2 separate regions of the Homo sapiens genome follow, and region 2 is linked to region 1. The links come from fine-mapping of genetic effects on gene expression. Tissue or cell type: naive CD4 T cells. Region 1 holds a variant in brackets; the other region holds the start of a gene. All regions are shown on one strand. Distances are between the middles of the regions.

What was found. PIP is the estimated chance that this variant, and not a neighbour inherited with it, causes the effect.
Region 2: it holds the start of CCDC18, and the variant in region 1 is fine-mapped to the expression of CCDC18 in naive CD4 T cells (Schmiedel 2018, PIP 0.95).

Annotation. Positions count from the first base shown.
Region 1 is chr1:93,100,011-93,108,166 of GRCh38, reverse strand. The region is part of intron 1 of MTF2 (metal response element binding transcription factor 2); the gene reads right to left. Among named protein-coding and RNA genes, the nearest start is that of MTF2, 25 kb to the right of the region's middle. The variant C/A (reference allele first, on the strand shown) is at 3,288.
Region 2 is chr1:93,175,943-93,182,740 of GRCh38, reverse strand. CCDC18 (coiled-coil domain containing 18) reads right to left here and starts at 2,017. Exons shown (of 29, transcript NM_001378204.1): 1 at 1,889-2,017. It overlaps TMED5 (transmembrane p24 trafficking protein 5), which reads left to right and starts at 2,328. Exons shown (of 4, transcript NM_016040.5): 1 at 2,328-2,687. The coding sequence starts at 2,499. RefSeq lists enhancers at 1,718-1,927, 2,798-2,947 and a silencer at 1,988-2,267.

The DNA.
Region 1 (8,156 bases):
AATATATAGAAATGTAATATATTTGGCAATAATAGCATAAAGGAAGTATGTAGGAGCAAAACTGTTTCAACTGTTTCAAAGAAATGACACAGGCCAGGTGCAGCATGGCTGACGCCTGTAATCCCAGCACTTTGGGAGGCTGAGGCAGGAGGACCCCGAATTCAAGAGTAGCCTGGGCAACAAAGGGAGAATGTCTCTAAAAAAATTAAAAAATAAAAATTAGCCGGGCATTGTGGCACGTGCCTGTGGTCCCAGCTACTCAGGAGTCTGGGGTGGGAGGACTATATGAGGCCAGGAGGTCGAGACTGCAGTGAGCTGTGATTGTGCCACTGCACTCCAGCCTGAGCAACAGAGAGAGAACCTGTCAAAAGAAAAGAAGAAAAGAAAAGAGAAAAATGGAAGGAAGGACAGACACAAGATGCTAACTTGAATTCACAAGAACAAACGAAAAAAAAAATGGTAATTAAGGTCAATATAAAACGTAGATTGTCACTTCAAGAAAATACCTGCCTTATACAGAACTAAGTGGCTGTTTCAAGTAAAAATGGTGTTCCATGAAAAAGCTGCTAGTTCAGCTGGCAACTCAAACAATGGCACAAGTGCCTTATGCCATTTCTATTTTATCACACATATTAAAAACCTGGCCAGCACGGTGGCTCATGCCTGTAATTCCAGCATTTTGGAAGGCCGAGGCAGGTGGATCATTTGAGGCCAGGAGTTCAAGACAAGCCTGGCCAACATAGCAAAACCCCCCATCTCTACTAAAAATACAAAATTAGCCAGGCATGGTGGCGCGTGCCTGTAATCCCAGCTACTCGGGAGGCTGAGGCAGGAGAACCGCTTGAACCTGGGAGGCGGACGTTGCAATGAGCCAAGATTACACCACTGCACTCCAGCCTAGGCAACAGAGCAAAACTACATCTCAAAAACAAACAAACAAACAAAAAACATTCTTAAGTGAAATAAGGTTTGGGGGTACGTGTGTGTGTTTATATTTTTTACCGTTAGTACACAATGAAGAATACAAGTACAGTTTGATGCCGCTGCCTTGATTCATGCTAAGGCACAAAGCAATTTTATCTAACATTGTTTTTTCTGTGCCATAGTCAGCTGTGAGGAGAAGGCACTTTTGGTAGTATAATTAGAGGGGTTAAAAAGTTTAAATGTTTGACAAGATCAGTGCAAGAGAACAGAAGTAAAAATGCAGGAAGAATCACAATGAATTATCATCAGGGATGCTCAAGGAGAGGGTAAGAATCCTCTTTCTCCAGATTTTGAAACAATTTAACGGCTTCACAGTATGGGAATAACTCTATTAGCAATCAACTTTGAAAAAAGCTTTAAGGGGCAGGATGCGGTGGCTCACGCCTGTAATCCCAACACTTTGGGAGGCCGAGGTGGGCAGATCACCTGAGGCTGGGAGTTCAAGACCAGCCTGACCAACATGGAGAAAAAACCCGTCTCTACTAAAAATACAAAATTAGCCTGGTGTGGTGGCGTATGCCTGTCATCCCAGCTACCTGGCAGGCTGAGGCAGGAAAATGTCTTGAACCCAGGAGGTGGAGGTTGCAGTGAGCTAAGATCGCACCATTGCACTCCAGCCTGGGCAACAAAAGCAAAAGTCTGTCTCAAAAAAAAAAAAAAAAGGCTTTAAGTTCAGTGTTCACTTGAGGGATTTTGCATCCCTTCAGTTAAAAAAAAAAAATAGCCAAAGCCTGAACAATTAATCAATCATGGGTGAAAAATGACCTCAGTAGAATGCCATGGCAGGTCTGCGTTAAGACCTAGAATTCCAAAGTAGAAACTGTACAAAAATAAAAATTGCAAACATTCCCAGTTTCATATGCTTTGCTATTATTTCAATAAATTATCCCCTTCTTTCAGGATGGCAAGGTCTGTCTCTGTCTTACTCTCCACTGTACTACTCCTGCTGCATAGCACATCCTTAGGTCATAAGGTATCAAACATTTTTTTATTTTTCCATCTCCTAGTGTTTATGCCCTGCTTCTCCTAATATTTCTGGTGTGCTGTGTCTCAAATGAGACCTAACCTAATTATAGTTACCCTTGATTCCTTATGCCCCCTTCCCACCACCTCCTCATTTTTTCCCTTCCATTCACAGTCAAACCTCCAGGAAAAAATTACTGAGATTACCAAGTCCCTAACCCTACATTAAACATTCAACACATTCATGGCCGGGCATGGTGGCTCACGCCTGTAATTCCAGCACTTTGGGAGAACGGGTCGGGCAGATCACGAGGTCAGGAGTTTGAGACCAGCCTGGTCAACATGGCCAAACCACGTCTCTACTTAAAATACAAAAATTAGCCGGGCGTGATGGCTGGCACCTGTAATCCCAGCTACTCAGGAGGCTGAGGCAGGAGAACTGCTTGAACCCGGGAGGTGGAGGTTGCAGTGAGCCGAGACCGCAGCATTGCACTCCAGCCTGGGTGAAAAGAGCAAGACTCTGGTCTCAAAAAAAAAACACACACACACACAAACAACATTCAACATATTCATTCACAAATCATTTTTGGGTCCCTATTATGAGCCACATACTGTGCCAGGCAGTAGATATATAGAGGTAATTTAATACTCAGATCACTGCTTTAGAGATATTTTTGCAGATGAGATTTTACAGATCCCTTTTTACATGAGGAAACTACAACTGCAAAACAGATTATAACTTGATGAAGTTTATTATAGGATACAAACCAGAGCCAGCATTCAATAAATCTTCTCTCTGGGCACCCTCCCATTAGCATTCAACTATGCTTAAAAACTTGCAAGGATCTTGGGGATGGGGGGTAGAATAACTAAATTCTCTTGATTCTTTGTGCTCCGTTCCCACCACTTCCTACTCTTTCCTCCCATTTGCAAGCAAACCTCGGGGTAAAGTTATACACGCTTAATGTCTCCACTCCTATAGTCTCCTCCCCTTTTCAGTCTTCGGCCCACTTCAATATAACCCACTAACCTCCCCCCAAACAGGGAATGTCTGTCTCTTTTTTTTTTTTTTTTTTGAGACGGAGTCTCGCTCTGTCACCCAGGCTGGAGTGCAGTGGCGCTATCTCGGCTCACTGCAAGCTCCGCCTCCCAGGTTCACGCCATTCTCCTGCCTCAGCCTCCCGAGTAGCTGGGACTACAGGCGCCCGCCACTACACCCGGCTAACTTTTTGTATTTTTAGTAGAGACGGGGTTTCACCTTGGTCTCGATCTCCTGACCTCGTGATCTGCCTGCCTCGGCCTCCCAAAGTGCTGGGATTACAGGCGTGAGCCACCGCGCC[C/A]GGCCGAGAATGTCTGTCTCTTATTCACACTTGTATCCTCAATCTCTGCATAGGGCATGATACATAAACGGCAGAAAGATTATGCAGAATTTATATAGTTCAAGTCAAGAAACGCCTATATTTAAGGAGTTAATTTTTTTATCTAACCAATATTTAAAGAGTTTAACTTTTCATCTTTATCTACTTTTTTTTTTTTTTTTTTGAGATGGAGTCTTGCTCTGTCACCAGGCTGGAGTACAGTGGCACGATCCCAGCTCACTGCAACCTCCACCTCCTGGGTTCAAGCAATTCTTGTGCCTCAGCCTCCCGGATAGCTGGGATTACAGGTGCATGCCACCACGCCCAGCTAATTTTTGTATTTTTAGTAGAGACAAGGTTTCACCATGTTGGCCAGAATGGTCTTGATCTCCTGACCTTGTGATCCACCCGCCTCGGCCTCCCAAAGTGCTGGGATTACAGGCCTGAGCCACAGCGCCCGGGGTACATTTTTAATCTAATGTCTCTAAGCACAAATCATCTGTTTTGCTTTAAGTAAAAAATAGACTCTACTTTCATTCACATTTAAGACAAATACACATCAACCTTTTACCCACATAAACATAAATCCTATATAAAACTGCATTAATAGAGAGATCATTTGTACCAGGCATGGTGGCTCACACCTGTAATCCTAGCACTTTGGGAGGCTGAGGCAGGAGGATCACTTGAGCCTAGGAATTTGAGACCAGCCTGGGCAACACAGTGAGACCTTGTCTCTACAAAAAAAAAAAAAAAAAAGCTGGGTGTAGTGGCATACGCCTGTGGTCTCAGCTACTCAGGAGGCTGAGGTGGGAGGATCACTTGAGCCCAGGAGGTAGAGGCTTCAGTGAGCCATGACTTCACCACTGCACTCCAGCCTAGACAACCTGTAACAAAAACCAAAAAATACATACATAAATAACGTGTAAAAGCAGTATCTTCTTTTAAAATTTCTCTGCCCAAAAAAATCTTACAGAAAACAAAGCAAGAAAAGAGTAAATTACCCATAATGTCACAACTCAAACGTAAGTAGGATAAACATCGTTGCACATTTTCCTCCCCTAAGGGTTTTCCTCTATGCAGTTTCCCCCACCCCATTACTATCACTGATTACTTCCCTCTTTGCTAGAATGTGACCTTTATTAGAAGTCAAATTAATTTTTCTAATTTTAGAATTTATTACTTCCTTTCTGATTACAAAGGTAAACATGCTGATGTTAGAATAATATAGAAACATATAGTTAAAAATGAAAATGCTCCATGCAATCTCCTCCCATAAAAAAAGTTAATCTCCTGATTCTTATTTGTACTACATATTTATAATTCATATAAATGTTTTTAATAAAATATAGGACATTATATATATTATTCTATAAATTTTCTCACATAACAATGTATCTTGAACAATGTAATTTCCATCTGTTACGTAAATATAAAATAAAAGCACATAAAATAATCTTTTCATCAGCTGCTAAACTGCTTTCCAACCATTACCCAATGGAGGAACATTTAGGATGTTTCCAATGTTTTAACATAAGCAGTAATATAAACTTCATTCTTCTACATTCCCAACTACTATATAGGATAAATAATAAAGAGAATTAATATATATATAATAAAATACTACGTATATTTTTCCTTTTTATAATAGAAAATTACAAACGTAGACAAAACAAGTATAATGAACCATCAAGTGACACCCAGTTTCAATTATAATTTCCTTTTTTTTTTTGAGCTAGTCTCACTGTGTCACCCAGGCTGAAGTGCAGTGGTGCGATCTTGGCTCACTGCAACCTCTGCCTCCCGGGTTCAAGCAATTCTCCTGCCTCAGCCTCCCAAGTAGCTGAGACTACAGGCGCCCACCACCATGCCCGGCTAATTTTTTTCATATTTTTGCAAAGACAGGGTTTCACTATGTTGGCCAGGCTGGTCTTGAACTCCTGACCTCGTGATTTGCCCGCCTCGGCCTTCCAAAGTGCTGGGATTACAGGCGTGAGCCACCGTGCCTGGCCCATAAAATTTCATGGCTAAAATTATTTCATTTATATACCCATATCCCCCCATCCTCATATGTGTATTTTTAAATATCATAGGTATTATCAAATTATTCTCCCAAAAGGTACCAACTCACACTCTCACCACACCTTCACCAACGGGAAGAATTATCATTCTTTTGCTGTTTGACAACACACACTCTATTTCTATCTACAACTCTATTAGTAGTAGTAAAAAAGCATGTTTCTCATAGGTTTGTTAACAATTTTTTTTTTGAGACAGGGTCTCTCTCTGTCACCCAGGCTGAAGTGCAGTGGTGCAATCATGGGTCACTGCAGCCTCAATCTCCCGGGCTCAAGGGATCCTCCCACTTCAGCCTCCCAAGCAGCTGGGACTACAGGCACACACCATGCCACCACGCCCACCTGATTTTTTAAAAATAATTTTTAGTAGGAATGGGAGCAGGTCTCAAACTCCTGAGCTCAAGTAATCCCTCCGCTTTGGCCTCCCAAAGTGCTGGGATTATAAGCATGAGCCACCACGCCCAGCCTATTAACAATTTCTAAGTCTTCTGGAAACTGCAGTTGATGTTCTTTGCCCATTTTTAAATGAAATGTTAATCACTGTCATGATAATTTTCAAGAGCATCTTATATGTTATAACCCTTTCTTATACATATTGCAAACATTCTTCTGAGTTCATATACTAAAGTGCCATGAGAAACAGACTTTTTGATTGGGGAATCAGTACTCCTTTTGGGTACTCAGTTGACTCTGGTCAGTAGCTACAAAGCTATATCCCTCATCTCACCTCATCTCAGATTCAAACTGCCTCTCCTGATTAAGCAGCCAGGGATTGAGGGGAGGGAGAAAGAGGTAGTTGTTATACAACGGGCATATAGTTTCAGTTTAACAAGGTAAAAAAGTGTTATGGAGACGGCTCAATGTATTTAATATCAGTGAACTGTACACTGAAAATTGGTTAAGACGGGCCAGGCATTGTGGCTCACACCTGTAACTTCAGCTCTTTGGGAGGCCAAGGCGGGAGGAGTGCTTGAGGCCAGGAGTTCAAGACCAGCCTAAGCAACACAAGATCCAGGCTCTACAAAATATTTCTTTGAAATCAGCCAGACATAGTGGGATGTGCCTATAGTCCCAGCTACTTAGGAAGCTGAGATGGGAGAATTGCGTGAGCCTGGGAGGTCGAGGCTGCAGTGAGCTGTGACTGCACCACTGCATTCCAGCCTGGGTAACAGGGAGACCCTGTCTCAAAAAAAAAAAAAAAAAAAAAAAAAAAAACCAGCCTGAGCAACATGGCAAGACCACATTCCTACAGAAAATTTTTAAAAAATTTGCCAAGTGTGATGGCACATAGCTGCAGGATCACTTGAGCTCAGGAGTTCGAGACTGCAGTGAGCTGGAATCACACCACTGCACTCCAGCCTGGGAAACAGAGTGAGACCTTATCTCCTTTTAAAAAAAAAAAAAAAAAAAAAAAAAAGGTTAAGATAGTAAATTTTGTTACATGTATTTTAACTCAATAAAAAGATTGGGAGAGAGGGCTCATAGTCACTACCACTGGATCACTGCTAGTCATATACATCTTGAAAGAGATTGCCTGGACAAATAAGTTTCTTCCCTTGAGACCAAGTGTTCAAGCCAGTAACTCTTTCTTGGTTTACTACCCCAGAATAAGTAAGACCCTGATTCAAGAAGTTGAAAACTGGATGTTTAATTCAGAAATAGTGTGGTTTAGGGAAAATGGATTAATTCTTCCCAATCCATTCCTCAATCTGTTCTCCTAGTGAACTAAATAAAGAACTATCTCAATTCTTAGTTGCCATCTTTCCCATGCCCACAATTTCTTCCCTTCCCTGGGAAAAGTAGTAAATATGTGGGTTAATAGCATGTGAAGGATATAATATAACCTAAGAAAAGTGCTATTTTTGGTGAAAACTTTCATACAGATATAGTCAAATTCATGAGGCCAAACAGGGCCAAAGTAAGGCCCAGGTATAAGGGAAGCAACAGGTAATCTGCTTAAGCTTGGCACTGCATTAAAGCTATGAAGAAGGAATTCTCTTTTATCTCTTGAGACAGGTATGTAAAATGAAGCCTGAGACTCGTTGCCTTCTTTCTGGTTAAGGTTTCCCTGAAAGTAGAATGTCAAAGAGAACCAGGGTTGAACCTAAAGGACAGAAAGCATAAAGCAAGCAGCTTAAAGGCCAGCTCTACTCCTTAGTTTTAGAAACAATACAAACAGCTGGGGGTGGTGGCTCACGGCTGTAATCCCAGCACTTTGGGAGGCCGAGGCGGGCAGATCATGAGGTCAGGAGAGCAAGACCATCTTGGCTAACACACAGTGAAACTCCGTCTCTACTAAAAATACTAAAAAATTAGCCAGGCATGGTGGCAGGTGCCTGTAGTCCCAGCTACTCAGGAGGCTGAGGCAGGAGAATGGCGTGAACCTGGGAGGCGGAGGTTGCAGTGAGCGGAGATCATGCCACTGCACTCCAGCCTGGGCGACAGAGTGAGACTCTGTCTCAAAAACAAACAAACAAACAAACAAACAAACATAATGCCACATATATGCTTTTTTATAAAAATAGCAAATAGTATAGAAAAAAATTAAGGTGAAAATCAATAGTTCCTCACTCCACCACTTCTAATATTCCAGTCTTACTCTCAGAGGCAAGTGGGTTTTTTTTAACTCTTTCAACTATGCCTTCTGAAGGTACCCTCGTATTTACAAATAATGTGTTTATACTTCTCTTTTTAAACTGATCAACTTCAAATCTGACTTCTTGCTATTGAAGTTGATAATTCACATCTTATGCCAACTCCTATTTCCTACCTC
Region 2 (6,798 bases), 75 kb before region 1:
CAAGTCACAACCACAGGGATCAAAATAACATTTGGCAGGTCAACTCATAGAAATGAAGAAAAGCTTTTGTTTCTTCAGTGGATGAGTATCTCTAGGGTTGTGAAACTACTAAATTTCTTTGCATATAAAAATCACAATAAAGCATCACATTTTATTATTGTAATTAATACAATAAAAAACTAAAGCTTTATAATCTCCACTACTACAGAGCTTTCTGCGCAATCTTAAAATTACATTCCTCTTTCAGATCCCATTTACCTTTTTCACTGTAGCATCTCCTTCAACGCCCTTCTTAGCATTCTGATCCCATCCCAAGTTCCAAAAGGTTAAAAGTCCTGTGCATTACGTTCAGGACCGCAATGTACTTAGAGAAGCTCAATATTTTGAATGAATTAACGAATACTAAACTGTCCTTCCTTCCCTCATCCAGTTAGAATGGTATGTTACATTTATTCCCCACTCAAAAATTCTCAGATGTAGGGAGGAAGATTAAAAAGAAAACTCCCACCTTATGGAAAGAAAGTGGCAGGAAATTAAATGAGATACTATGTAATCTTAATAGACAAACTGGTTCTATCCTCTTTCCCTTTTTTGTTTCCACAAATTTGCTTCTGCTTAAGTGACAAGACTCTCGCAGACAAGTCAATAAATCAGGTCCCCATCCTGCTTTACCTATTCAACATCTCTAGCTCTCTGTAGGATGGTGAAGGAGAAAAGGGTAGAGAAAATTGGGCAAATTCTATAATACCATTTGGTACTATATATTTCATCTTAAATCAGGTTTTAGTTCAACATCTGTGTATTGCCATGCAAGAAATAACTCCCAGTCCGGGCGCGGTGGCTCACGCCGGTAATCCCAGCACTTTGGGAGGTCAAGGCGGGTGGATCACGAGGTCAAAAGTTAAAGACCAACCTGGCCAAGATGGTGAAACCCCGTATCTACTAAAAATACAAAAAAATTAGCCGGGGGTGGTGGCGAGCGCCTGTAATCTCAGCTACTCGGGAGGCTGAGGCAGAGAATTGCTTGAACCTGGGAGGCGGAGGTTGCAGTGAGCCGAGATCGCGCCACTGCACTCCAGCCTGGGCGACAGAGTGAGACTCGGTCTCAAAAAAAAAAGAAAGAACTCCCTAACTCTTCTGCAGTAGCAATGAATATATTTGATACTAAAATGTTTTCATTTTCCTAGTGGGACATTTACTGTCAAATGAATGTCCTTAACTTCAATTTACAGTAGTTACCCAAAAAAGGCTATCTTCACTGACTATGCATACCTAGAAAAGCACATCATCCTACTCACCGACCTTAACAACATCATCTTTCGGCCCTAATTAACAATGTGTTTGTAGGTTTGCACACGCACACCCATCAAACGAAGGACAAGTGTTCTTTTATACCCTATGTATGTGATACAATGGGCTGTAGTCGAAAAAGATTCCTCATTTTGGAAAGAAGTCATAACTTTATGTAGTAGTCTCCTGTCTCAAGATCGCTTGACACAGCTAATCTTACATCCGTCTGAAAGAAGCGGGGGCGGGGGTGGGGGACGGAAGTGACAGTTTCCTCTTTTTTTTTTTTTTTTTAATTTTATAGAGACAGTGGCTCGCCATATTGCCAAGGCTGGCCTCGAACTCCTGGGCTCAAGCAATCCTTCCGCCTCGACATCCCAAAGTGCTGAGGTAACAGGCGTAAGCCACTGCGCCCGGCCTCCTATTTTTCATCAAATAAAATACAACCGTTCAGAGCAGCATGCTCAGCAACCACGAGGACCAGTCCCAGCGCATCCAAGGTGCCGGGAGGGAAAGGAACAGAACTCCCCCAGGTAAGCCGGTTTCCCCACGCCAAGGCGCAGTCGCTCACCACCCAAATCGTCGCTGGGGAGAGACCCACCCGGCGACTGCGCGCTTCGCACTCGAGTCTGCGTTAGGAAGCCTCTGACCCTTTCCCGGGCCCCTGCGCGTGGAAGCCTCGGACACAACTCGGAGAACCAGCGAACCCCGGCAGCACAGAATTCGAACCGCCGCGGGAGCCGTTGGGACGCGCCTACCCGGTCACTGCCCCGCCCCGGCGCAGACTGCGTGAGGCGCCGCCGAAGGCGCGGGGCTTGCCGGGGATCGTGGTCGGCGAGCGCGCCCGAGCCCACTAGCGGAGCCCGCCCGGGACTACATTTCCCACAATTACCGCCATGATGCCCATTGGTGGGGGAAGCCATGGGAACCGGAGGCCGTCAGGGGGAGAGGCGGGCGGCGCTCACGCCTGGCCTGAGGGGGCCGAGACTGAGGCGGTTGCGGAATAGGACTGCTAGCCCCGCCCAGAGTCCCTACCCTTTGGAGAACTGCGCTTCTCTTTCGGAGGGAGTGTTCGCCGCCGCCGCGGCCGCCACCTGGAGTTTCTTCAGACTCCAGATTTCCCTGTCAACCACGAGGAGTCCAGAGAGGAAACGCGGAGCGGAGACAACAGTACCTGACGCCTCTTTCAGCCCGGGATCGCCCCAGCAGGGATGGGCGACAAGATCTGGCTGCCCTTCCCCGTGCTCCTTCTGGCCGCTCTGCCTCCGGTGCTGCTGCCTGGGGCGGCCGGCTTCACACCTTCCCTCGATAGCGACTTCACCTTTACCCTTCCCGCCGGCCAGAAGGAGTGCTTCTACCAGCCCATGCCCCTGAAGGCCTCGCTGGAGATCGAGTACCAAGTAAGTGCGGAGGATAAACCAGCCTCCTTCCTTTAACCCAGCTGCACTGCGTTGTCGCCTCTCACCCGTTTAGAAACTTCTGGTGGACGGCCCTGGTGGTGAAGAGGCGAGGGCCGTTCAGGAAGCCAGCCCGCTCCGCGCAGGCGCGCGAGGCGAGGCGAGGCTCTCGCTGGGGCCGGGGACCCAGAACTTAGGCTGGACCTGGAATTGATGACTACCCGCCTTCTCCCCTTTCCTCCGGTGGGAAGGAGGCCAGAACTGGTGATGTCGCTGGCTTTTCTCTTTGTTTCCTAATTCGCCCACTGCTTTTCTTAGCCACTACACGCTCTCATACTGAGAATTTCACAATGCAGAACTGATACACGTTCTCCTTCATCATTGGACAAGGTGATGACACTTGTTTGAATCACCCCCACCCCTTTCACACAGTTCAGATGTTACAAATCACTGTCTTTGCTTCAGTTAAGGGTTTTTGGATTATGATCGTGTAATTGGCATTAAGCCCGATTTTGAAATTTTTTGGAAGACGCTGTTGCTATATTTAATGATACATTTCCGTTTAAGTTATATATCCATTATTTTCAAAAGATCAAATCGTATATTAAAACTTTATAACCTTTCTTTTCATTTTTTCATTGAGCATTGTAAGCATTTCCCTCGTGTCATTGTTTTTTTTTTTTTTTTTTGAGACGGAGTCTCGCTTTGTTGCTCAAGCTAGAGTTGGAGTGCAGTGGCGCTATCTCGGCTCATTGCAACCTCCGCCTCCCGGGTTCAAGCGATTCTCCTGCCTCAGCCTTCCGAGTAGCTGAGATTACAGACGTGCGCCACCATGCCCAGCTAATTTTTGTATTTTTAGTAGAGACGGGGTTTCACCATGTTGGCCAGGCTGGTCTCGAACTCCCGACCTCAGGCGATCCACCCGCCTCGGCCTCCCAAAGTGCTGGGATTACAGGCGTGAGCCACCATGCCTAGCATGTTTTCTTTTTAGTATCTGCATAATATTCTTGCTGGGAATTACCTTATTTTATGTAGTCATGGTGGTAGGGGGTAATTTCTTAGAAGAAATCTTGTTCGTTCCACAGCAAATTCCGATGTTTTCAGGTAGCAGTACAGGGGGGAAAGAAAAGGCATTGATGTGTTTCATCTTTCAGTTTTTTAGAAGTTAATTATAATCATCAAATGTTAATTTTTTAAGTTGATGTAGAGAATTGTTTTTAAATACCAGGTACTGTCACATACAGAGCAAAATAAAAAGTTGTAGAATTTTTTATACGATGGAACTTTAGGATTAAGTTGTATATAGATACACACGATAAGCACAGAGAATAAAATATCTAAAATCACATAGTGAGCAAAACTGAGGCTAAAACTCAGTGTTTCTTGATTTCCAGTAAAGTTCAAAAGTTCAACATTTACTGAACAGTTAACACGTGCCAGGAATTGTGCATGGAGGTGGGGGAGACGGAGGGGGAGCTGGGTTGTGCGGGATGTAGGTAAAAGAGAAAGAAAGAATCCCTCTTCTCAAAGAGCTTAATAAAGGTTACTGGCTCATAAACAGGTAATTTCAATAAAGGATGGCTAAGTACCAGTAGAGGAGGGTCACTTCTAAGGGTTTCAGAAGAGGATTCCTGGAGAAAATAAAATTTAATCCAGAAAGATGCTTAATTGAGACGAAAATGCCAGGAACAAGGGGCATTTCAGAAAAGCGAACAAAAAGATCCATAGTTCTTAAAATACATAGTGTAAGTGGGGATGGTTAGTGTGTAGTGGACACTACAAGTACTGAGTTTGTATTAGACTTTAAGACATATAAAGTCTAGGGTGGGAGTAGCAGAAAAGGACATCGGAGAGGCCAGAAGGCTGGGGTCATTAAGCATGAATCATAGCCTTGTTTGCCGTGCTGAGTAGGTTTTCCTTAATTTTGTACAAGTCCATTTAAGATTTAAGCAGATCACTGGATGCAGTGTGGAAAATGGATTTAAGGAGAGCAAAATTAGAGTCAAGGAAACTAACTAGAGGGCTAGTGAAATAGTCTAGATAAGAAAACAATTTGTATTAATAAAAAAATCTTCAGTATTTACACACATATTAGGGAAGATATCTATTTTAACTACTGTCCTCTTATAGTTAAGAGCACCAGCTCTTAACCTTAGCCTGGGTTCAAATCTTGACTCTGCCTACTTAAAACTTATGTGATCTTCTCACTTGTAAAATAGAGATAATAATTGTAACTACATCATAGAGTTGATTTGAAAAAGCATGAGTTAATAAATGCTCATATTCAGTGTAAAGTAGTCTATTAAAAAATGCTCATAGATCATCCCTGACACATAGTAAATAATCAATGAATGTTAATTTTACATTTATACCTCTATAGTTATGTAGCTGGCTTGGTTTAGCTTTATTCTTTACATCTTTAGTCACTCTTAAAGGGACTGTTCCTTTTTTTTTTTTTTTTTTTTTTTTTTTGAGACAGAGTCTCCCTCTGTCACTCTGTTACCCAGGCTGGAGTGCAGTGGCGCGACCTTGGCCCACAGCAACCTTCATCTCCCGAGTTCAAGTGATTCTCCCGCCTCAGCTTCCCGAGTAGCTGGATTACAGGCATGTGCCACCACACCCAGCTAATTTTTGTATTTTTAGTAGAGACGGGGTTTCACTATGTTGGCCAGACTGGTCCCAAACTCCTGATCTCAAGTGATCTGCCAGCCTCAGCCTCCAAAGTGCTGGGATTATAGGTGTGAGCCACCGCGCCCGGCTGGGACTATTCCTTTAAAACATTCTCCCTAAACAATTTGTTTTGATTAAGGAAAGAGGTAAAATCATTTGTCTGTAATCCTAGACAGTGTTGGTGAGATGTGTAGGGTAACTATCATCTTCCACCCTGTTTGTATTTCCCAACTTGTTTAATTTCCCAGTAACTACATCCTACTAATTTTTGTCTTAAAGTTAGTTTTTAAAATTTTATAGAACAATCTAGTTTTGTCCTTGGTTACTTATTGAAAATTTTACTAATTTCTTACTTTTTAGGTTTTAGGAGAATACTTTTTGGATAATTGACTAGCCTCACATTATATTGATAGAGGTTCTTGAAAACTTTAATGCCAATTCATGTATCTTATGACTAAAATAGATAATCCATTTAGAAATTTAAGTCATTCTTGCGTGCTTGATATGTGTCAGCACTATCCAAGTTGCTAGGGATACAATGGTGAGTGAAAATATCAGCTAGGTGCAGTGGCTCACACCTGTAATCCCAACAGTTTGGGAGGCCAAGGTGGGAGGATCACTCAAGCACAGGCGTTTCACACCAGCCTGGACAACATAGCAAGACCCCATCTCTACCAAAAATAAAGTTAGCCAGGCATGGTAGCACACACTTGTGGTTCCAGCTACTTGGGAGGCTGAGGTGGGAGGATCACTTGAGCCCAGGAGGTTGAGGCTATGGTGAGCTGTGATCACACCACTGTACTCCAGCCTCGGTGACAAGAGCGAGACCCTGCCTCAAAAAAATATATATATATATGTTTGTGTGTGTGTGTGTGTGTATAGTCTGTGCCCTCATACAATCAAGTATTAATTAATCAAATTATTACACAAATACATGTCAAAATATTTACTAGGGGTAATGAAGGTAAGTTCATAAGACTATGAGTGGGCTCAGTAGGAGGACTTCATTTTATCTGGAAATTGAAAGACATCCAGAAGTAGAGTTAAGATCTACAGAATTATCAGACTTTCACTAGGCATAATGGAATGAGTGGTACGAGACAATGGGTAAAAAAGAACAACAACGTGCCAAGATACTAAGGAAGAAGAGAGAAAGATACCTTTGAGGTCCTGAAAGATAGGATACAGAGAGAGAAAAGTGGTACAAGTCTACTTTAGAGAAGTCAGTAGCAACAGCAACCAAATCATTGTGGGCTTTTAGGTCCTTGTTAAGGATATGGGTCTTTTGCAGAGACCAGTAATACGCCACTGAATAGTTATAAGCAGGTTAACTCGATCTGTGTTTTTTAAAAGATCGTTTTGGCCACAAGGTATTGAGCCTCTCTGTACCAGTTTCTATACTTTAACAGTAATCACCTGCTCCCCACTATATATTATTGTGAAG